Linked DNA regions of Homo sapiens. The protein of the gene in region 2 purifies or fractionates together with the protein of the main gene of each other region. This does not show direct contact. Each region holds a gene or a part of one and is shown on either strand. Other genes may lie near its edges. The genes, in order: UBE4B, EYA3, WDR97, MTMR3, TIMM21, TOMM70 and SOAT1.

What was found.
Region 1: the proteins of EYA3 (region 2) and UBE4B purify together in Homo sapiens (affinity purification with mass spectrometry; one large-scale study listed by BioGRID and IntAct). This does not show direct contact.
Region 3: the proteins of EYA3 (region 2) and WDR97 purify together in Homo sapiens (affinity purification with mass spectrometry, with the first as the bait; one large-scale study listed by BioGRID). This does not show direct contact.
Region 4: the proteins of EYA3 (region 2) and MTMR3 purify together in Homo sapiens (affinity purification with mass spectrometry, with the first as the bait; one large-scale study listed by BioGRID). This does not show direct contact.
Region 5: the proteins of EYA3 (region 2) and TIMM21 purify together in Homo sapiens (affinity purification with mass spectrometry, with the first as the bait; one large-scale study listed by BioGRID). This does not show direct contact.
Region 6: the proteins of EYA3 (region 2) and TOMM70 purify together in Homo sapiens (affinity purification with mass spectrometry, with the first as the bait; one large-scale study listed by BioGRID). This does not show direct contact.
Region 7: the proteins of EYA3 (region 2) and SOAT1 purify together in Homo sapiens (affinity purification with mass spectrometry, with the first as the bait; one large-scale study listed by BioGRID). This does not show direct contact.

The regions. Positions count from the first base shown.
Region 1 is NC_000001.11:10,126,958-10,130,457, reverse strand, and holds part of UBE4B (ubiquitin conjugation factor E4 B), read right to left. Parts: intron 1,067-3,500; coding exon 1,010-1,066; intron 1-1,009. UniProt on the Homo sapiens protein: Ubiquitin-protein ligase that probably functions as an E3 ligase in conjunction with specific E1 and E2 ligases. May also function as an E4 ligase mediating the assembly of polyubiquitin chains on substrates ubiquitinated by another E3 ubiquitin ligase.
Region 2 is NC_000001.11:28,082,111-28,085,610, forward strand, and holds part of EYA3 (protein phosphatase EYA3), read right to left. Parts: intron 1-3,500. UniProt on the Homo sapiens protein: Tyrosine phosphatase that specifically dephosphorylates 'Tyr-142' of histone H2AX (H2AXY142ph). 'Tyr-142' phosphorylation of histone H2AX plays a central role in DNA repair and acts as a mark that distinguishes between apoptotic and repair responses to genotoxic stress.
Region 3 is NC_000008.11:144,110,739-144,114,238, reverse strand, and holds part of WDR97 (WD repeat-containing protein 97), read right to left. Parts: coding exon 3,500-3,500; intron 3,376-3,499; coding exon 3,243-3,375; intron 3,139-3,242; coding exon 3,017-3,138; intron 2,814-3,016; coding exon 2,753-2,813; intron 2,608-2,752; coding exon 2,458-2,607; intron 2,353-2,457; coding exon 2,095-2,352; intron 2,016-2,094; coding exon 1,890-2,015; intron 1,793-1,889; coding exon 1,709-1,792; intron 800-1,708; coding exon 722-799; coding exon of another isoform or gene 671-721; intron 583-670; coding exon 358-582; intron 263-357; coding exon 77-262; intron 1-76.
Region 4 is NC_000022.11:30,019,174-30,022,673, reverse strand, and holds part of MTMR3 (phosphatidylinositol-3,5-bisphosphate 3-phosphatase MTMR3), read right to left. Parts: intron 3,195-3,500; coding exon 1,790-3,194; intron 646-1,789; coding exon 535-645; intron 66-534; coding exon 1-65. UniProt on the Homo sapiens protein: Lipid phosphatase that specifically dephosphorylates the D-3 position of phosphatidylinositol 3-phosphate and phosphatidylinositol 3,5-bisphosphate, generating phosphatidylinositol and phosphatidylinositol 5-phosphate.
Region 5 is NC_000018.10:74,158,523-74,161,031, reverse strand, and holds the end of TIMM21 (mitochondrial import inner membrane translocase subunit Tim21 precursor), read right to left. Parts: 3' UTR 501-2,509; downstream 1-500. UniProt on the Homo sapiens protein: Participates in the translocation of transit peptide-containing proteins across the mitochondrial inner membrane.
Region 6 is NC_000003.12:100,394,590-100,398,089, forward strand, and holds part of TOMM70 (mitochondrial import receptor subunit TOM70), read right to left. Parts: intron 1-3,500. UniProt on the Homo sapiens protein: Acts as a receptor of the preprotein translocase complex of the outer mitochondrial membrane (TOM complex). Recognizes and mediates the translocation of mitochondrial preproteins from the cytosol into the mitochondria in a chaperone dependent manner.
Region 7 is NC_000001.11:179,338,797-179,342,296, reverse strand, and holds part of SOAT1 (sterol O-acyltransferase 1), read right to left. Parts: intron 2,860-3,500; coding exon 2,752-2,859; intron 1,270-2,751; coding exon 987-1,269; intron 288-986; exon of another isoform or gene 184-287; coding exon 105-183; intron 1-104.

The DNA.
Region 1 (3,500 bases), about 18 Mb from region 2:
CGGTGGGGTAAAAATGTAATGAAAACTCTCCAGCTCCTCTGTATTTTCACAAGATATTATTAAAACTTTTATGTTTCAGCCAGGCATGGTGGCTCACGCCTGTAATCCCAGCACTTTGGGAGGCCAGTGTGGGTGGGGGTGGGTCACCTGAGGTCAGGAGTCCGAGACAACCCTGGCCAACATGGAGAAACCCCGTCTCTACTAAAAATACAAAAATTAGCCGGGCGTGGTGGTGTGCGCCTGTAATCCCAGCTACTGGGGAGGCTGAGGCCAAGAGAATCGCTTGAACCCAGGAGGCAGAGGTTGCAGTGAGCTGAGATTGCGCCACTGCGCTCCAGCCTGGGTGACAGAGTGAGACTCTGTCTCAAAAAAAAGAATGTTTAAGTTTCAGGATACTATTGGATGAAGTTCAAATGAACTCTTCTTATACCACCAAAGGACTCGAATAACTTTTCCATACCTCTTGTTAGTTTAGTTGTACAATACTTGTCAAGGGAAAAAAAACAGGCCCGGTGCGGTGGCTCACGCCTGTAACCCAACACTTTGGGAGGCTGAGGCGGGTGGATCACCTGAGGTCAGTAGTTCGAGACCAGCCTGGCCAACATGGTAAAACTCCATCTCTACTAAAAATACAAAAAAATTAGCCTCGCATGGTAATGCATGCCTGTATTCCCAGCTACTTGGGAGGCTGAGGCACGAGACTCACTTGAACCCAGGAGGCGTAGGCTGCAGTGTGCCAAGATCCCACCACTGCACTCCATCCAGCCTGGGTGACAGAGTGAGATTCTTAGAAAAAAAAGGGAAAAAAATCATAGAAATGAACAACTGTAATGCAGGATATAACGTGTCTAACAAAAATGTAACAGTTGAGAGCCTCCCAGACACGTTACCTCCGCCTACACCTAAATGTCCTTCAAGAGACATTTTCCAGGCCATCTCACTAGAGGAATGCCTTCTGGGTTATGATATATTCACTGAAAATGTGCAAGCCCATCAGGTGAGTGCTTACCAAATTGCACACAGGGTGTGTCTTCCCAAACTTGGTTTCACAGAGCTCACCTAGTGCCTAGAAATAAGATCAGAGTCATTTAAATGCATTTCATCTTAAACTGACTGTCATTTGTAGCATAAAGAAACAGTTTTAACTGCTGCTATAAATTCGTTCCCTCTAAAATGGCACACATGCATTCCCTCTGAAATGGCAGCAGCTTCACTACTTTTTCTGATTAATAAACTAAAACACATGCAATGTGAAAACTTGAAATAAAACAGAAATATAAAATGAAACTAAAAATTACTCAAGCTTTACCCTCAAAGATAACCTCTATTGATATTTTGAGCAACAGTTTTCAGATATATTTTTGTGTACTGTATCTATATATGTTTTTTACAAAAAAGTTTTTCCACTTCATATCTTTCCATGTCAAAAAGATTTATTTCATAAACTTTAGATGGCTCCTCTTGCCAGTGTTAAACATGACTATAAATAATTACAATTTAATAAGCTATCAAATTCAAAACATATTTAAAAACATAACTTGGTTTCAAGATTTCTAGTACTTTTAAGAATTCCAACACTTTCCTTCAGACATCCAACCATCCTAACATTAGAGAACGATGAAAAACACTTTTTAGGGACATAAACATAATTTAGCATGCCCATGGTAACTCAATCAAACATTATTTTCAACAGTTAATTTCCTCTGTGATTCGGACGCAGCTCTAGAAGTTGCTACATGAGCCGAAGAGTGCATTTAGGCATTGACACAACGTTGAGATGCCTTTGAGGTTCAGGCAGCCTCAACTCAGAAGGAAGCGTTCTCACTGCCTAGTGCAGGAGTTCACAAACGTGGCTGCATATTAGGATCACATGGGAAGCCTTTGGAAACCCCAATGCCATGCCACACCCCTGGTGAATTAAATCACAAGGTCTGGGGTGGGGAGCCAGGCAGAAACACCTTTAAAGATCCCCAGCTGATTCCAAGGTGATTCCAACGTATGGCACAGCAGGATCCACTGACCTAGAGAATGATCACAATGATTTCTGATTTTAGCTTCAACAGTCTTCCGCTTCCTGCCTCTCATTATTGTACCCTCTCACTCACTGTGTCCTCGTTATTATGCAAGCATCAATAATGGCACAAAATGAAATCACTGTCTACCACAATGGAGGCCTCTGTCTTTTGAACAAAAGGACATTTTGGTGATATCAGATGCTAAAAGCTCCTCACTGAAACATCAAGCTAATTCACACCACAACCCAAAAGCCAACAGTCCCATGAAGGAACATCTACATAATATGGTGATAATTAGTGTTCACTAAAATATTTCATCACTGAACTCAAACAATCAGATTATTCCACTTCCTTTTATCTGCCACAGGGAGAACAATACATAAGGATTCAAATAATTTTACCAGGAGCCCCAATAACATGTACAATGGAAAGAGCTCTGGCATAAATCCACTTAAAATTATTTTTTAAAGTAGGAATTCTGGTTTCACCTTCTAATTTCCCAGCATTCTTGTAGCCTTTTAGTGCCATGACAGGTTTGAATTTTTTAAATAGATAAATACACCCTTTGTGTACAGCTCTGTTTTAACATTTATCACAGTATCTGTTCAACTGTTGCGCTGTAGCTCTTATTTTTGCAGTAGATTATGAGTGCCTTGAGGAGAGGGACCTTGTCTTCCTAGCTTCTGTATCACCAGTGTCTAGCACAGAACAGATCGTCAGTAATGAATTCATGGTATAATGGAATCCAATCAGTGGAATAAGTAAAAGAAATAAATACAGTAAGAAAAACAACCATGGTCTCAATTTACATAAGACTTAATTTATACATAGAATAAACTAATTTCATTTTGATATTTTTTCCTTTACACTTCTGCAACGAAAATATTCAGTAACACTTCAAAATACTTTTCTCCCAAAATTTCAAATAAGCGAATTCAGAACAGAAAGGAGCTTCTAATTTTCATTCTAGTTTCAGCATTTTCACAACATTCAAGCCTCCCCATGGGAATCTAGCTGAAGCTTCTGTCCACAATGTATGCCTGCTCTAAGTGCGTTAAAGAGCTAAGCAGATTTCTACTTCCCAAGTAAATATGACCTTAGGAAACAGGGAGGGTGAACAAGAGAGCTACACTGAGATTTTCTGCACAAAGTAAACACATAAAGATAAAATTGTATTCATTTTCTTAGTATGTACAGCTTTGCCTTTTTTATTTGCATTTTTAATAGGTTTTTTTTTTTTAAGTAACAAAATTTCATCCCAACTATGGTATGCTCATTGCTAGGAGATAAGTTATCTTTTTCATAAGCTATACAAAGTACATTGTAATAAGTGCATTTAACTCCTGTCTAGGACTTGGATAGGTGGAAGATGTACCAGGCTGCTAACTGTCTTCACTGATGCATCTCACTGCACACCAAACACTCTGCATGGCCAACACAGTGATTTCATGTTTTAAATTTGAAAACAAGGTTGATCTCATGGAC
Region 2 (3,500 bases):
GCTACTATAAAAAAACAGTATACTTAATGTCTCAATTAATAAGAGTTAACATGAGAATTAAAATTAGTATTCCTAATCAAATGTCACTTCTTACCAGAAATATTTATACTTTTTCTGTAAACCAGATTCTACGATTCTCGACTGTTTTCAAAATATTCAGAAAAATAATATCATTATCTGAGTACAAGACTCCTGCATTAAGGTGCACCTCAACTTATATAAAATAATCTCCTTCCCCCAGATATTTGATTAAATTTTTTTATTTGGGCTTAATAAAGGAACAAAAGAATCATCTTAATATGATCAATAATATTCTAAATGACTATTATTTGCATCTTCTCATTTAGAAAGTAATTTGTTTGTGAAAGTTCCCCTCATCTTTTCTAAAGTAAAAATAAAATCACTAATTTAAATATACTACTCTAAACATGATAGCCCTAAAGAGATGAATGTACTCTAAACATGATAGTCCTGAAGAGATGAATGTCCTTAATTTCACATAAATTTCCAAATTTGGAAATGAGACCAGTGGCAAATCAGATGTTTCAGTTTTAGTCTTCTGTTTTATATTTCAAAGTTGTTAAATTCATATGGGAATGGTAAGATTTAAGTATTTTAAGACTATTACATAAATTTGTTTAATACTCTGAAGGTAAAAGAAAAAAATTAACTTCGAGGGGCCATTTTATAAAAAATAGTGACTTATCTCCAAGTAACTCCAAAGTAATTAACTTCCATAAGATAATTTTTCTAACGGGGGAGGAATTTGATCCCTTATTGCTTTCTTAATATATGGTTTTGCCATCTGAGAAACATCGGTAGTAAAAGGTTTGCAATTTGCCTTAAGCCAGCATTAGTAAAAAGGCCAAGTAAAACCCTCCTTAAGGTTCCTAACCAAAAGCAGTATTCTTTTGTGTTTCAGACAAACTAGATTTTTAACCTCAACCTATAAAGAAAGAAATCACTAAAGTAGCAGACCCTTGTACAAATAAGATTAACTCAGGAGCCAAAAAGACTAAGTTCAAATCCAGCTCTTTGATAACTAGTTGTGTTACTTTGGGCAAGTTACATAACTTCTGTACCTCAGTTTCCTTATATGTAAAATGGAGATAGTAAGAAGAGTACCCTTGGCTGGGCACGGTGGCTCACGCCTGTAATCTCAGCACTTTGGGAGGCTGAGGCAGGCAGATCACGAGGTCAGGAGTTCAAGACCAGCCTGACCAACATGGTGAAACCCCATCTCTACTAAAAATACAAAAATTAGCCGGGCTTGGTGGCACACGCCTGTAATCCCAGCTACTCAGGAGGCTGAGGCAGGAGAATCACTTGAGCCCAGGAGGCAGAGGTTGCAGTGACCAGAGATTGTGCCACTGCACTCTAGCCTGGGCGACAGGGCAAGACTCCGTCTCAAAAAAAAAAAAGAATAGTACCCTTATTTCATAGGGTTGTAAAGATTAAAGAGTTAATACATGTAAACTACTTAAAATAGTTCCTGGTACATAGTAAGTGCTGTATAAAGTTCACTTTTATTTTTACTGTTTTACCACTACAGAGTTTCATGGTTCAGTTGTGAAAGTTTCCCAAGTGAAAATTATTTGATTGTATCTATAACGAAAGAACATGATTTTATGTTAATTAAGTTTATTTAATTCTAATTATGTTGTCTTACGTTTAATTCAGAAATGTACAAATAAGATCAAATTCAGAATTTAAGTGTACATATCAGCCTGGTACAATATTACCTAGCCACATAAATAGCCTAAATATGTATTACTGTAACTGTACACAGTAGGTGCCTAAACAATATTTGCTGAAATAAATGTATTACAAAGAGTATTGCTAATTATTTTCTAGGGAAGAAAATGAAAACCATCTAACTGCTACAAACATTAACCACAGCTAATAAGTTAAAGTGCATCCAAAACAATCTGTAGTAAGATCTTCACGATATTAAGCACTGACTGCCTTGGGCTGATCTGTTAACTTATTTACAGTAAGTTGGCACTATTTAAACTACACATTCCTTTTCTGATTCAAAATACTATTGCATACTTAAATGGGAAAACAGCAAAGACAAATTTTAGGAAGCCCATATTTTAAATGGCTGTTTTTAAATATACTACTATAAAGAACAGAGAAAATGCCTAAATTACTTCTACATTTAATAATTAGCTACCCTGGAACTTAGGTTGATGGAACTAAATAAAAATATCAAGGATGATATGTTCCATTATTTGCTATGTTATCTGACAGTAAAAGATACCAGTATCAACAGGGTAGTTTAGAGCTTAAGCCATACACTTTGTAAAAGAATATGCACTTGTATTTTTAAGTTAATTAGAAAACAGAAAGTCCACCTATTTTCCACCTTACTATCAATATAACAATTCAACCTTTTGGTATAAACCAATTAGATGAACATCTGGGAAGCATTGACTATTCCAAAATATATATATATATATATATATATATATATATATATATATTTTTTTTTTTTTTTTTTTTTTTTTTTTTTTTGAGATGAGTCTCGCTCTGTCGCCTAGGGTGGAGTGCAGTAGCACGATCTCAGCTCACTGCAACCTCCGCCTCCCTGGTTCAAGCAATTCTCCTGCCTCAGTCTCCCGAGTAGCTGGGACTACAGGCATACGCCGCCACGCCCAGCTAATTTTTTGTATTTTAGTAGAGATGGGGTTTCACCGTGTTGCCCAGGCTGTTCTCCAACTCCTGAACTCAGGCAATCTGCCTGCCTTGGCCTCCCAAAGTGCTGACTATTCCTAATATTTTAAAATACACATTTCTATTTTGAACTATTCTTCCTCCATTTAAATCATACATGAGCTAAAGTATCCTGTTGTTACATGCAGAACAGAAATATCTTTTGGACAAACCGCTACCTAAAAAGAAGTTCCATGAGGCTTTTATTTATAATCAAAACAAAATAAATGAAGTCATGAAACAGCTTAGGCACAGCACAGAAACCATAATGCTACAAGGTACAAGTGACAAGGACTTGTTGGAGGTATACTTTGTTTCTTAAATTTTCAAAACTACATCAGCCGCCTGTGGGTGGTGGCTCACACCTTTAATCTCAGCACTTTGAGAGCCCGAGGCAGGCAGATTGCTTGAGTCCAGGAGTTTGAGATCAGCCTGGGCAACATGGTGAAACTCTGCCTCTCCAAAAAAATTTCAAAATTAGCCAGGTATGGTGGCATGAACCTGTAGTCCCAGCTATTCTGGAGGCTGTGGGAGGATGACTTCAGCCCAGGAGGTCAGGGCTGCAGTGAGCCGAGATCGTGCCACTGCACTACAGCCTGGCCAACAGAGCAAGGTTTTGTTTTGTTTTTTGTCTCAAAAAAACAAACAAACAAACAAAAAACTACATCTCCGTAAACACAGGATTCAAGGACCAAAAAACAAACAAACAAAACAAGTAAGACAAAGTACATTAGCAAATAAAATGACAAAAAAGAACCAAAAATAATCAAACCAAACCAAAATAA
Region 3 (3,500 bases), on a different chromosome or scaffold from region 2:
CCCAAGCCAGCCCCTACCTTCTCCCCTGTCCCTCACCCTAACCCATGCTTCTCATGCATCCCCAGTTCCCTCCAACCTGCAGGCTGAAGATGGGGAACAACTTTTTGAACCAGGTCTGGTAGATGAAGAAATGCAGAAACTTGGGCAGATGCCCGTAATGCTCATCCAAGAGCAAACTCCCATGACGGTGCCAGGGATGAGGGTGGGTCCTGGCAACCTTGCAGCTGCGCCGCCGGGGCTCCTGGGTCCAGTCCACAGCACTCTAGGGGAGCAGCAGTGGCTGCAGGTCCCACCTGTCTGGGTCTCAGTGTAAGCCCACCTCCCGTGGTGGCCTGGGGCCTCTGCCTGAGCCTCTACCTGATCCTCCAGTTCCCAGGAATCCAGCTGCTGGTTGGAGTGCGGGCTCAGGGAAGCCAAGGCCCAGTCCAGCTCCTCGTCTTCCTTCTCCTCCTCCTCTTCCTTCTTGTCTTCCTCCCCCTCCTCCCCAGGCTTCTCCCCCATCCATTGGAGCAGCTTCCTCTGCCACTGGGTTTGGGATGGCCTGGGGCGCCACAACCACAGGGCATCCTGGCTTGCCCCTGGCTGCAGAGGGGCAAGAGATGGTGCCTGATGGGTTGCAAGGACAGCAGAGCCCTCCCCTGCCGGCAAAACCCCCAGCCCTGCCCCTTGCCTCGAGCTTTCTCTGGGAGGCGAGCTGAGTCGGGGATCCGAGGCTGCTGACCTCCGCATTTAGCCACATCTGCTGTAGCACCGCGGAGTTGGGCACATAGCCGGGGAAGCAGATGGGCCTCAGGCAGTGCTGGAGGTGGGCACAGCAGGGAATGCTGAGGACCTGGATTCCCCAGCCTGGACACCACCCTTGGTCACCTGTATAACCTCTCAGAGCCCCTCAGCCGCCAGTCCAGCTCTGCCTGCCAGGCCTCCGAGAGCTGGCTGAGCTAGCAACCCCTACTCTCAACACAGATGGCAGGAGAACCCTGAGATACCAGGGGCGAGGCCCTCAGTGAGCATCAGCTCTGACAAACGAGAAGGGAAACCTGGAGAAGTGCTGGCTTCTAGGGGCCCTGACACCCTGCAAGCTCCTTACAGGACTTGGCCCCAGCCCTGGGACAAGAAAGTCTAAAAGAAGCACAGGGGCCAGGGAGGAAGGAAGGAGCTTGGAGAAAGGGCAATGAAGAGCATGATGGTGGCACCCAGGCCCAAAGAGTCAATTACCCACCTGGGCAGGTGACAGTGCCAGGAATATGCTGGGGGAGGGGCTGAGGCCTGCCTGGGCACCTGGTGTACGTGAGGGTGGGAAGACAGTGGATTCTAAAGGGCCAGGTTCCCTTGACTTTGCTCCTCTAAAGGGCAGGGATTCTGATCTTCCAGGAAAAGTCCCTAGGGGACCTGCCCTCCCAGCGCCTCCACGGGGGAAAGGGGTGTGTGGCATAACCGGCTGGGGGGACTGGCTTTGCCTGATGTCAGCTCCCAGAGCAGCAAGGAGCCTGTGGCCACAAACACAGCTGTACTGGAACAGGGCTAGACAGAGGGTGAAGGGTGAGGGGTGAGGGGTGCGTGGGAGGCTACAGCCTGGCCCTCTGGTTGTAGGTGGGCATGGCCCTTGGGTCAGATTTGGACACAAAGATTTGTAGCAAAGGGGAGATGGCAGGCACAAGAGTGATGCCTGGAGAGGAGTGGCTCTCCAGGAGCTGGGAGGGGGTCTCACCTTGTGGGGCTGCACGGTGGCAGGAAAGAAGCCCCTGAGGCTAGAGAGAGGTTCCTTGTCCCATCTCTTTGGCAGCAGTGGGATCTGGGGGATGGAATGGGGGCTCAGAACAACACAGCCCCTAGCACCCCGGCAGCTCTGCCCCTCAGTAGGTGGTACCCCACCTGCCTGGGTCCCTCACCCTGCACTGCAAGTGGGAGGATGGCAGGTCCAGGGCCATGGTCGTCCTCCCTCGGAGCTGCTCCAACTGCAGCTGCAGATCCAGACTGATGCCCAGGTAGTGGCTCAGTGAGGAGCGGGCCAGAAGCTGGGGCATAGGAGGAGTCACAGGGTGGCAGAGGGGTCATGGGGGCCCAGCAGGCATGTGGGAGGGTGGGAAGCCTCACCTGGGATGCCTTGCTGTGCACCCTACGGTGGGTGGGTGGGATCGGCACTGTGACTCGGGGAGACTGGGAGAAGTGCTGGCCCAGGGCTCCCAGGTCCTGTGGGGACAGGGCTGTTGGCACTGTTTGGGCTGCAGTGCTGACCTCAGCCCGGGCAAGACAGTGGGCAGCTTGGGGTACAGCACACACATCCCGGGTCTCTCTCTCCACTCTGAGGGTCCCGGCACTCCACTGCTGGGACCCCCTTCCAGACTGCATGCCCTGGGAGGTAGCAGGAGCAGACAGACCATCAGAGACCAGGTGGGAGGGGTGGGTGGAGAAGAGGGGCCAGGGTCAGGGCTGGGCTGGGGGAGGCCCTACACCTACCAGCAGGCCAGAGCCGTAGATCAGACGGAGGTAATTGTCAAAGCCTTCCTGGCGCTGCTGCCAGGAGGGTGGGGGCTGGGCTGCTGGGACCACTAGCCCCAGCCTCAACTGCTGAAGGTCTCGGTCCCGGGCCACTATGGCGTCCAAGTCCTGAGTCAGGGTTCAGGGATCAGCCTGCTCTTCCTTGAGCCTTGCTATGTGCTGCCCGGGCAACCATGGGGATCCCAGGCCTGCCCCAGGGCTGACGGCTGGGGCCTGAGCCGGGGCAGGGCGGGCTAAGGAGGACCCACCCCACCTCCTTCGGCACCAGGTGCTGAGATGTTGCCCTCCGACGATGGATGAGAGACAAGGCCTCGCTGCAAACAGGGACAGGCACAGGTGGGATGCTGGGTGGCATGCCAGTGGGCTGGGGCAGAGGCTGGGACAAGGACCAACCCCAAACGGGTGTGCCAGGGCTCAGGCAGGCTTGTATCAACTCCAGAGGGCCCCACACCGCCAGGCCCCCACCCAGAGTGGGAAAGGAGGGCCTCCAGGAGGGCTGAGCAGGCCTGCATGGGACCTGAGGCTGGCTGCCCCATGGAGGTTGGTGAGCCTCTGCAGTTGGGCGGAAGTCAGTGACTCCTGGCTCATCAGTGGCAGCGGAGGGTCGTCCACCACGTCTGGGGCCTTCCGGCACATCTTCTGAATAGGGGAAGGAGCCTGTATCCCTGGCTGGGGGAACCTGGGTCTGCCCCCCAAGGTGAGCAAGGGGGGCCCACCTTGCTCACTCTGTCCTCACCACACACCTTAACTAGGTAGGATGTAGGCAGGTAGAGCCTGTGGGACACCAGGCAGAGGCGGGATCCCAGCGCCAGCACCAGGTCTCCACTGTTGCTGCAGAAAGCCAGGGCCTGAGGGGCACCATTCAGCTGCAGGAGCCTGGAGAGGCACCCAGGGCAGCCGAGGCTCAGCAGGGACAAGGCCTTCTCCACTCAGTCCAGCCAGTGGGCTCTGGTGAGGAGCAGAGGTAGGAGACCCCAGCCCTCCCCACCTCCTAGCCTACC
Region 4 (3,500 bases), on a different chromosome or scaffold from region 2:
AGCCAGAAGGCACTGTCGCACGCATAGCAGTGGGCGGCCAGGTGGTCAGGAAGCCAACGGGTCATCTGCAAAACAGATGGGACCAGGTTACTGACAGGAGATGGGCCATCCAGCTGGAGCCAGCAGAGCCATGCTGGGGGCAGCAAGAGTCACAAGGACCACATCAGCTCCAGTGGCACCAGCCCAGCAGATCTGATGTCAACAGTACAAGAAAGGCGTCCAAATCGTTTCCCTGGAGGGGACTCCAATCTCCCCTGAGATAAAGTAGCAGGCAGCAGCACCCTGGGTCACTGTGAGAGCTGGCAAGGCTCCAGTTCATAGAGGCAATGAAGAGGGAGGGCCAGCTTGCTGAGTCTCCCTGGCTCAGAAATCCTAGGCTTCATGTGGGTTCCCAGGAGCTAAGGTGCCAGAGGCTCAGGGCTAGCTGTGCTGGGAGGTGCTTCCTTGGCCAGGGGTATGGGGTGGGAATGGGGGTGGAGAAGAACCACAAAACAGTTAAATTGATGGCACTCAGAGCAGGGGCTGAGCCTGTACCTCTGTGTCCTGTTTATCCACCTGCTCCCAGCTGGCTTCAGAGAAAATCTCTGTGCTGCAGCGAGACAAACAGTTCTGATCCAGATTGCTTTCCGAGTCGGGGATTGAAGTCTGTTGGCAAACAAACACAGCTGAACAGAATGAACCTGGTCTCCTCCCAAAAGAAGAAAAGGCCTGGTGAAGAAGGGAGAACTGAGGACTCTGGGTGGGGCCGAGTGCTAGGACTGCCGAATCTGCAGATGCATCAGCCATCAAGAACTGGGGTGAAGAAGTGCAGTGTGGGCCTGGGCTCAGCTGGGAGAGGGATACACAGGTTGTGTGCAGTGACTCTGGAGTAGAAAAACAGGCCCTCAGGGTTCCAGAAAGTGAGTGAGAGGGAAGTGACCAAAATGGAATGAGAATTCTGTATGTCAGCTGCTCCAGTGGGCCTGTCAATCCAACCCTGCCTGCCACTAAGTTAAAGCTGAGTGCTTTCGGGATGCCCTCCTTTTCTTAGAAGGACTCTCTGGGAACATGAGAAACTATCATTAGCATGAAGGAAAAGCCAAGTCACTCTGAACTGAAAGTCACTGGATGTGCCCGCCTTTAATGTACGCTGACCACTTGAGAGCCAGGCTCACACTTGTACTTGAGCTGCCTGAGTCAAGTCCACCCAGAGAGGAAAGCACCTCCTTGAGAACCTCCCCCTCTGGAACCCCCATTTCCAGCCACAAACCCCCATCAGAGCTAACTCCTCAACAGTGCTAGAAACCAGTCCCTTCTCTCCATTTCTACTGGCAGCATCTGCCACAGGATGGGTATAAATATTTGTTTAAAAAGAACTGAACCTTCAAAGCCATAGCCCACGTCTGGAAGGACTAATACTTTGTAGTTACTAAGGCAGAACAGGCACTAAAATCTGACAGGAATAACTTGGCATTGCCCTACAGATGTCATTCTGCCCATGGGTTCAAGCCCTTCTGAAGACTTATGATCCTGTGTCTGAGAGATCTGATCAACCATGCAGTGCATGCTAAGTCTCTTCCTCTCCAACGGCCTCAACAGGACATCTGCAGAAAGTAAGCGAAGCAGAAAACAGGCAGGCTGCCATCGCTGTCGTGGAGGCTCATCTCCAGCCTCTCTTAACAGGGCTACTCTGGACCTTTCCAATCCTTTAACAACCTGTACCAATCACCATGCACTGGGCACAAAGGGCACCCAGCCTCAGCATGCCGTCTCCTTGGGCAGCTATGGAGGAATACCACAGCCTACTCACCACCTCATCCCCAAAGTCTCCATTAAAGTGTAGGGAGCTGGTCAGGTACTGGCTCTCCAGGCGACTCTTCAGCTCCTGGACTTGTTTCTTCAAAGTTTCTACTTCCTGCTGGTGGCCTGACTCAATCTGACGCAGGCGCTGTTGGATCGTGTCTGTGTACACTGACATGCCATCATCGTCCAGGTGGCTGCGGGAAGGCTGGTCGGGGCTGCTGGTTGCAGATGGCCTTCCTGAGTGGCTATGCAGCCACTTGTGGTGCAAGTTCCTTGAGTGTAAGTGGGCAGAGCTGCAGCTCATAGCAGACAGCTGACGGCTCAGTGAGTCCTTGCTCCTACCAGCCTCCCCATTGGCGCAATGCCCATTGGGTGTGGGGTACATCTGGAGGGTGCTAAGACCTGGGGGCTGCTCTGAGGCCCTGTTTTCAGTCTCTGGGGCACCATTGCACACAAGCCCCTCTTTACATTCGGCTAAAGGCAAGGCACAAGGGGAACGTGTCAGGCTGAGAGTGCTGCCAAGGGAAGTCCTATGCACCACAGACCCCACTTGGGGCCTCTCGACCAGGCTTGTCTCTGAAGGGCTGGGTTCCATGGTCTGAGGAAGCCTGTCCTTGCCACTATTTACAAGGCAAGATCTATGATGACCTTGGGGCCCACTTACTGACTTCACCTTATCTTCCACTAACATGTCTGTAGAACTGTCCACGTTTGGTCCTCTGGTCTCAAAAGGGACTTGGGAAGGTAGCAGAGAACATGACTGTGAGGTACCATAGCCAACTTTTGCATCTACTGGGATTGGAAGAACTGCTTCCTCCCTACCCTCTGCAATCTCTTCTATTCGAAACTGCTCCACAGGGACCTCCAGGGAATCCTCTCCCCTGGGGGGGACCTGGAGAGAACTGAGGAGAACACTGAGCCCACTCTGCTGTTCAGAAATGCCCTGTGAGAACAGAGGCCAGCTCATATCCAGATGGCTCCTCAGAGCAGCATCACCCAGTTCTGGGTCTTGGTGAAGTCCAATGGCTGAGGCCTCAGGTGTCTTCCTCCTGCTCTCCTTTTCTAAGAGAGGGTCCTCTTTACCCTCCTGTATCTCAATGCCTGCCCTGTGGGCAGGTTCCTCTACTCCACTCTCCTCTTTGGTGGCCTCCTGCAAGATGTTCTCCATCTGCCCCTCAGCTACTCCGGCTGCAACAGAAAGCTCGGCACCCCCCGGCACTCTGGTGGGCTTCCCTAGGCTGTCGGCAGAAAGGGGATCCTCTCCAGGGCCAGCCAGGCTGCTCAGCTCTAGTGAGCGCCGGTGCTCCTGCCACTTCTCGTTCAGGCTGGGGTCGCTGCAGCGCCGGCTGGCCAGAGGCACTGTGTTGTCACAGGCTGTGGTCAGATTGTCGTATGATCTAGTCTTTGGTAGCCTAAAGGAAAGGAATTTGGGGGAAATGAAAATCTTGGAAACTGTTTGGAGGAAGTAGGAGACAATAGGTTTTAACAAGCAGTTGTTTCATAACTGGGTCCATTATGGCTACTCATGGAGCTGTAGCATCTCTGGAGCGAGGCCCAGACTGCTGGAGCAGCAAAGCTCCGGAACAAGTCCTCCTAGTGTGCAGATTTCCTTTCAAACTCCCCCAACCCCATGCCCCATACATACAAATGAGCTAACAGCAAGTGCTATTTTCTTTTTTTTTTTTTTTTGAGACGGAGTCTCACTCTGTCGCCCAGGC
Region 5 (2,509 bases), on a different chromosome or scaffold from region 2:
AACACATGAGTGGTACTATATAAAATAAATAGTAAGTGTAACCCTGAGTAGAAATCTATGAATTAGGAATTGGGGAACTGTCTCTGGATGAGAATAAGAGAAACAGAAGTAATATTGTAATGGCTTACCAAATGGAAATAAATGGATAAAGTATTACTAGCATTGATCAACAATAGTTATGAAGGGAGCTTGCAGGGTAGTTAGGCTGGAAATCTCACGGGGCTAAAAGCAGAACTTCTGATAAACTCTTGCCTTGCATATAATTTCTTCATTAAGGAGGAAGAGCAAACAGTGACAGGAGAGTCTGCTCTAGAGTTAGTTGTGAAAAGAGTTCACTGATCAGGTGTGGAGGAATGACAGAGGCCTTGGAGGAAAATGACCAGAGCATTTGCAAATTCACAAATATGACGGAAGGGGATACCAGGCAGAGTCAGATAAGTGCCCTAGAATTCAGAGAAAAAGTGGGAGTAAGCCCATGGACAGAGACACCACAATCAAAGTGGATTAAAGAGGGTCTTAAAACACAGAAATTTTAACATTTAGTAGGGTACATCAGAGGGAATGAAAACAGAGATCTAGAGAGTTACACATCACATTTTCCTGTGGCTATACAGAAGAATCTCTTATTGGTACAGAGTTTTTCCTTTTGAAAAAGTAATTTAGTTTTATTTCTAATTATAAAAGCTCAGATCTGTTTTTTGTTTTTTTTTTTTGAGACGAAGTCACACTCCGTCACTCATGCTGGAGTGCAGTGACATGATCTTGGCTCACTGCAACCTCTGCCTCCTGGGTTCAAGCGCTTCTCCTGTCTCCTGAGTAGATGAGATTACAGGAGTGTGTCAACGTGCCTGGTTAATTTTTTTTTTTTTGAATTTTTAGTAGATAGGGTTTCACCATGTTGGCCAGGCTGGTCTTGAACTCCTGACCTCCAGTGATTGACCTGCCTCAGCCTCCCAAAGTGCTGGGATTATAGGCATGAGCCACCTCGCCTGGCCAAAAGCTCAGATCTTAAAGGGGCATGAGCATATTGTAAAATGGCAGGTGCATAAAAATGAATACAGAAAAAGCAAACAGTCTTAAGTCAAATGACAGGGCCATGGAGGGTGGCTAAATCCCCACCTGAGCTCAGATGCCGGGCTTCTTCAGCAAGCTACAGTTTGAGCAGGTTGTTTGAAGAGCAGGGCTGCTTTTTTGAGTTTAGGATAGCAAGTGGAACTTCTCAGCCTGTTAAATGTTGACATTTCAGTGAATCCTGAAACTGAACATTCTATAGCAAAGGAAAAAACGATTAGGAGAGAAAGCCTAAGTTAAGGCCTCATTCAGTCAAAGTGTGTTACGTCAGGGAGACGAGTGTCTGTTATATTTTCTATACTCCTTAAATGTTGGAAATTTTTATAATTAAAAACATCTAAAACAAGCAGTCAAACCAAGAAACTAACTAAATTAAGCAGGGAGATAAAGTAAAAAGGGGAGATAGATTGCCTGGAGGTCTCTCTATCCTGAATATCCCAAAATTTCAAGAACACATCAGAAATTCCTCTACAGACAGTTCTCGGGGAGAAGGAACAAACACATCAGAGGGGATACCTCACACTGAAGCCACCGCAGATAAACATGGTTCTAGACCCCTCCCAATGCACATAGCACTTACATAGATATGGAATCAGGATCTTGTAAGTGAAGGTCACTTTTTTCCAAATCCCCAGCAAATATTTCAAATAAAATAGAATTTCCTTTTTTTTTTTTTTTTTCTTTAAGGGGCCTCACACACGTATTTGAATGTCTCTCATTCACTCCCATGTTCTTTTGGCAGTCAGAAGTATCAGTGCAAGTAAGTTCTAAAGGGGATGAGGGCACTTCATGGCTGCCTTCTATGGTCCAGGCTTGTACCTCTCATCACACTGCCATCCTAACAACCCACACAACAGGGACACTTGACCACGCACCTGCTAGAAAAGGTGGGGTGGGTGCCCAGGTCTACCCAACTTGGGAGTGTGTACTTTTCCCGCTATGTACTAGGCCCTTAATTCATGAAGCGCGAAATATGAGACAGATTCCTAAAACTCACACAATTTTGAAGAATGTATTTACCATCTGGTTCCCTATGGCCCTCAACCATTTTCACATGCTTATCTCAAGTCAGATTCCAAAGTATGCGGAGGGCAGCTGCTAATGACATATTTGTTAGTTTTAATTTTATTCTGCAGACATTATGCAGTTCTATAATATAAAATGAATACAATACTAAAATCTATTTCCTTTATTTACATGGTGTAACATTTCCAATAACAAACATTTCTAATCATGAAAGATGGTGTTAAAGCAGAAATATTGTCATGATTGAGTCAATGGGAGAACATAAAATATGCTGTATTTCATAATTTTTCCGTAAGAAAATGTCTAGTTTGTTTAAATGCAACAAATACTGTATTAGATTCACTTTATAAGCCATACACTCCTTCTTGTCTTTCTTTTGAACACATTCTGGAAGGCAGCTGTGAAGAACGGA
Region 6 (3,500 bases), on a different chromosome or scaffold from region 2:
ACCTCCCGGGTTCAAGTGATCCTCTCCCCTCAGTCTCCTGAGTAGCTGGGATTACAGAAACCCACCATCATGCCCGGCTAATTTTTGTATTTTTGTAGAGATGGGGTTTCACCATGTTGGCCAGGCCAGTCTTGAACTCCTGCCCTCAGGTGATCCACCTGCCTCAGCTTCCCAAAGCGCTGGGATTACAGGTGTGAGCCACTGTACCTGGCCAACCAATTGTTACTTTCATATGAATCAAACCTAGGATAATAATACCTAAGATAATAAGGATTCAAACCTAATAAGGAATAAAACCTAAGATAATAAAAAAGTCCTTTCCCATTTCACGTCTGGAAATTTTAAAAATGACAACCAACCCCACCTACTAAATCATAATAACTCTTTACCTAGGAAGAATATACTTTTATAATGACTGCTTCTGCAGGATTATGATTGTAGGTCATGCATAATCAACTGATTTACAAAAAGTATGCCCAAATGAGGTTTAAGATTTACGGCCAGGCGCGGTGGCTCACGCCTGTAATCCTAGCACTTTGGGAGGCCGAGGCAGGCAGAGCATGAGGTCAGGAGATTGAGACCATCCTGGCTAACATGGTGAAACTCTGTCTCTACTAAAAATACAAAAAATTAGCAGGGTGTGGTGGCACTCGCCTGTAATCCCAGCTACTCGGGAGGCTGAGGCAGGAGAATCGGTTGAACCCGGGAGGCAGAGGTTGCAGTAAGCCGAGATTGCGCCACTACACTCCAGCCTGGGCAACAGAGTGAGACTCCATCTCAAAAAACAAACAAAAAAACCCAAAACAAACAAACAAAAAATTCACCAGGCATGGTGGCGAGCTACTCAGGAGGCTGAGGGAGGAGAATCACTTGAACCCAGGAGGCGGATGTTGCGGTGAGCAGAGATTGCACCACTGCACTCCAGCCTGGGTGACAGAGCGCGACTCCAACTCAAAAAAAAAAAAAAAAAGAGAAAGGAAAAAAGATTTCCACGGAATCCAGCATTAACTGGTAGAACAAAAATGAAGAGCTGGAAAATTTGAAAAATATACCACTTGTGAAATTTATATATACATACACACACACATATATAAAATATAAACTTAGGGATGTCAAAGGAACCCTTAATTATTAGTCAAAAAATGAAACTTCATTCATTCAACACTTGCTATGCACCTGTATTAGGTTCTGGCAATACAATGGTGAACAAGATAGAGCCAGTCTCAGCCTTCACAGATTCAAGAGCATAGCAGGAAACAGCAATAAGCAATTCTAGTACCACGTGGTAAGTGCTATAAAATGGAAAAGTCCAGGGTGTTATAAAATCACATAGTGGTGTGCTTAGGTAGAGAGAAGTTTCAGAAAAGATGAAATGACCTCTGTATTGTGATAAGGAGACTAAGAATCCATGAGGCTGGTATCAGGTTTTTTTTTTTTTTTTTTTAAATCAGGAAAATGGAGTACCTCAGAAGCAGCAGGAAAAGTTATGACATTTAGAGCACAATATGAAATACTGCCAAGGATTAAGATTGAAAAGTGTTAACTAAGCTTAGAGGGAATGTCATTGGTGTCCCTGATTGATTTTTTAAAAATGACTCAAAACAGATCATTTGGGGGAGAGAATGACTTCATTTCAAACAAGATGACCAATAACAACAGTTTATGCAGTCCTCGACCCTTTACTAAAATGTGTAGGTACATCTTCCCTTTCCTACTGTAGTAGGCTGGCTTAGATTATTGGTTCCTAACCATTTCATGTGGGCTAAACTCATTTCATGGGCTAAACATATTTAATGCTAAATATGAACACAAGAATGATGCATTTTTTATCATCAGATTAAATAACAATTGGACAAAAAAGTTACAATGAAGTCAATAATGCTTTTAAATAAGTGCATTTTTCTAGAAAATCACAGGATGTTTGAAAAAGAAGTATCTGGGACATTGGTACAGCCAGGATACCATGCTTGGAATATATGTGTGGTGGTCCCTCGTGATGACTCAAGCCCACAGATTGAGAAGCACTATGGATAATATGATCTTCTAAAAAGCCTTGCAATTTAAAATTTTTTTTTAATTCTTCAAGTTTAAAAAAATTACTGAAGCAAAATGGCACATCATGGTAGATTTTATAATAGTTCAAAATGGAATATGATCTAATACTTTAAGCACCTCAGTCTTAGACACTATCAACTGTGACTAAATGCTTTTCTTCAGTGATACCCCAATATTCCCATTAATTAAAACAACTATGAATATCCTTTGCACTTCCTTTACAAGTTTTTGCTATCCCAGAAAAAAGGTAATTGTGCACACTAATTGTAAAGGAAAATCTCCAACCCAATAGACAGAAGTCCAGTAATTCTATCAGATCATTTTACATTAAGGTAAACATAAGCCAAAAGACAAAAATACAGATTTTCCATTCTATTTTCTGATATCAAACCCTAAACAGACAATATTTGTCTATTTATTCATTCCTTTAAAAACTGTAGCTATTGCTCAGGTGGAGAAAGGACAGTTAGGGCATCAGGATTCTGCCAGGTTTCCATCAGTGAAAGCAAATGCTTCTGGTTGCGAAATCCACCGAGGATGCCAATTTAGAGGTGCTATTCAAATGTACAGCAGTTTATCCAACCACAGATAAGAAATTACAATTACTGATCAATTAATTACATTTAGATAGTCTAATAATAACTCTAAGGACCAGACTATTAAAAGAAGACAAAAGTAGTCTTTCAATATTTACTGGTCACCAACAGTTAAGATATAAATTTCCAGTTTAAAAAAATCACAAAGACCTTCCTATTGTTGCTTTACCAAAGAACAATCTAGTAATTCAAAGATTACAGGTGTAGGCCTACATATTCCACAAGATGGACAATGGTAAGTGCAAATGTTTTGCCTTATTTTATTTGGGGCCAAAAATAAATCATTTTAAAGCAGTTTAAGTTACACAAAGAGTCCAATCTTAAATTCTAATTTTTAACAGCAGTCAGGTGAATAAAAAGTTATTTGTGGTCAGGGGCAGTGGCTCATGCCTGTAATCCCAGCACTTTGGGAGGCCAAGGCGGGTGAATCACGAGGTCAGGAGTTTGAGACCAGCCTGGCGAACATGGTGAAACCCTGTCTCTACTAAAAATACAAAAATTAGCCAGGCGTGGTGGTGCGTGCCTGTAATCCCAGCTACTTGGGAGGCTGAGGCAGGACAATCTCTTGAGCCCAGGAGGCAGAGGTTGCAGTGAGCCGAGACCTCGCCATTGCACTCCAGCCTGGGTGACAGAGTGAGACTCCGTATCAAAAAAAAAAAGTTATTTGTAAAACTAAAAAACTCTGAAATATCATGAAATTAAAAAATCATCAGTGTTGATCCAGACAACGTGGAAAAGAGGAATTAGGACATCTAAAATGTGAAAAGGAGATGGCTAGGTTTTATCAAATACCAATGGTACAGATCCCCTGGGATGAGGTGGGGTGGCTGAAACCACAATGAAATGTTA
Region 7 (3,500 bases), about 150 Mb from region 2:
GGAGGGAAGGAAAGAAGGAAAGAAGGGAAGGGAAGGGAAGGGAATGGGGTGGGGGGAGAGGAGGGGAGGGGAGGAAGAAATAATGAACAAAAGAAATTACATACTTGATTTCTCCTTAGCTGAATTTAGTACCCGAGGCACGTTCTCTCTGACAAATGAGTGGGCCTTCATTACAAAACGAATCTACAAAAGCAGGAGGAAAAAGATGTCTCTTCAAAGAAAGTCTCCTGCAAGTGTCCTTTCCATTAGTCAAATGCATTATAGATAGCCAGTAAAGTCAGAAAATCCTGATAAGTGTATAAACAAATTAAAATAAAACCTTTATTATATAGTTACATGACAAAACAATGAATCTGACATTTCAAAAGTGAAGTTTTTAATTATGAAAATATTTTATAATTTAAATGACTTTTACAAAAAGTATTCAGAAACAAAATCTTGATGCATCAAAAATAATTCAATGTGGCCGGGCGCGGTGGCTTACGCCTGTAATCTCAGCACTTTGGGAGGCCGAGGCAGGCGGATCGTAAGGTCAGGAGTTTGAGACCAGTCTAGCCAATATGGTGAAACCCCATCTCTACTAAAAATACAAAAATTAGCCGGGTGTGGTGGCAGGCGCCTGCAGTCCCAGCCACTTGGGAGGCTGAGGCAGAAGAATCACTTGAACCTGGGAGGCAGGGGTTGCAGTGAGCCGAGATGGTGCCACTGCACTCCAGCCTAGGTGACAGAGCGAGACTCTGTCTCAAAAAAAAAAAAAAAAGTTCAACGTAATTTATTTATCAAAATTCAGAGAACATGGAAGCTACAATGAAACTTAAGAGGTGAGATGATTCTAGTTTAACAATTTTACAGATAATGGCAAAAGAACAATATATGAAAATTTATCCAAGTTAATACAGCTAAAAATAATAGTATCAGTATGTCATCATCATTATTATTATTTTAGCCGAGGACAGCATCGCCTTGGGTAACACTTAAAACCTTACCTGCTCGAATATAATGATGAACCGGGAAGCTGGTGGCAGTGTATATGCTAACACAACATATGTTGGTCCAAAACCTAGAACTCCAATCTGGAAGATCATGAAAAGAAAGCCATGGAAGAGAGAACGGATCAGCGGATGAGAACTCTTGCTATAGCCAGTGGCCCAATGTTGAAACAGAAAATAGGGAACTGAAAATGTAGACAGGAACATGATCCACCAGGTCCAAACAACGGTAGGAAATTTGCCAAAAGCATAAGACAGGAGGCTGAACTCAAGCACCAGCCTGGGGAGAAAAGGTACAGAAAAAGAACATAGAGGTGAATTTTTAATATACACTGAGTTCACAGAATTTAAAAGTTTCAAACACCAAACTTTCAACCTTAGGAAACACCACAACGTTAATACGCTGAAGTCATGGATGTAATAGTTCTGCTAGTTAGAGATCTGCTTCTAACCATCTGCTTTACAATATATATATATATATATATATCAACAATATATGTTCTTTAGAAACAAATTTTCTAAAAGCCCTAAGATAAATACAGTCTTCAAACTTAAGATATCTAAGATAATTGGACTTTGAACTTCTGAAAGATTAGATTCTCACATTAATTTTCTAACTGTAAAATATTCTATGGAAAATATTCAAACAGCAATCGTTCTTATGTACAAAAGATGATTTTTCAGAAGAAATAGGTACAATTTAAAAATATGTTAATATACTATACCATTATCTCCAAACTTAATTTTCAAAAAAAGTACATAATTCAATCCATGATTACCACGCTGTCATTTTTTAAGCTACAATTTGAGTTTTAAAATTTTATTTTGAGATCTGGTCTCCTTTGCATCCAGGCTGGAGTGCAGTGGCACAAACACAGCTCCACTGCAGCCTCAACCTCCCTGGCTCAAGCGATCCTCCTATCTCAGCCTCCTGAGTAGCTGGAACTACAAGTGTCTGCCACCACGCCCAGCTAATTTTTAAATTTTTTGTAGAGATGTTGCCCAGGCTGGTCTCCAACTCCTAAGCTCAAGTGATCCTCCCGCCTCGGCCTCCCAAAGTGCTGAGATTACAGGCACAAGCAACCATGCCTGGCCTATAATTTGACTTTCACATTAAAAAGAAATATCAACTTTTTCAACCTTCAATTCCAATAAGCTACTTGTTTTAAGTAACCATCTTAAATAAAGACAATCAAAAAGTTAATAAGTCATATACAGTTATCCCTCCCTATACATGGGGGGTTGGTTCCAGGAAACTGTGCAGACACCAAAACTTATGCAAATTCGAGGCCCACAGTTGGCCCCGTGGAACCCACAGATATGAAAAATCTGCCATTCTTATATGTGTGTTTTGCATCCTGGAATACTCTAGATCCCAATCAGCCTTTGCTTGCAGATGTAGAACCCATGGATACAGAGTGCTAAACACATTGATTGAAAAAATTCTGTGTATAAATAGACATGCACAGTTCAAACCCGTGCTGTTCGTAGGTCAACTGTGTATAAAGTTCTCCCATTTGGGAAAATTACCTAGAAATTACTGATTATGGTCTATTCAAATAAACCATTTTAAAAATAAAAGTAATGAAACTTCTAATTTTCTCCATCAGTTAAACTTTTCAGGGCAAAGGAATATCACCCTCAAATCTGCTGCTTTAGGATTTCCTGAAGCAATTTAATCAATTTACCCTTTACCAAAATTTAGTGAAAACCTCTAACTTCTCATGCATCAACTAGCCAGCCATCTTTTTTGTTGTCTTACCTTCCTTCATCAATGTAATCTACTACAAGTGTGCTGAGGATAAAGAGAATGAGGAGGGCAATAAACATGTGATATATTGTTCTGATGTGGTCCACTTCAAGCAGTTCACTGTAAATGTAGTTCAAACAAAACAAGTTAATAATGTATATTTAAATTTAAAACACCATAAAATCTTTTCTTAAAGCAGTTAACTTAAAGCAGTTGAGAAGATGCTTAATCCACTCTCCAAAAACATCTCAAAAAAGAATGGTCTACATTCTTTAAAACCTACCAGAAATGGATGTTTTCTAAGTAAACAAAGGCCAGTCACTAAAAACAGGAAACAAACTATTTCAAATGTTAAGAATTTTTTAATCCTATTCATATTCTACTCCCTAAATTTAATATATATTAAGTACTACCTATTTCCAAAATGTTAAAATTGACATGAGTTTCTATAATGTTGATCATGATGATGATGATAACCAATTACTACCCTACACGTCTATAAAACTCAACCATTTACAAAGATTTTACCTTCTCATTGACTTTTGTATTTAAGACTGGTCTAATTTTCTTTTAGAATATAACAATAATATAGATGACTTTTCCTAAATAATCTTTTATATCTGACTAAAACAGGTTTTTAAACTTGTTTTAACTTGTTTTTGGAAAGATAATGCTAATCTTTTAAATGATTTTGAGTAATCTAATATACTACTACTCAATCTCTGGACCAAGGATCTTCACAGTCTAATAAAAACTCATCT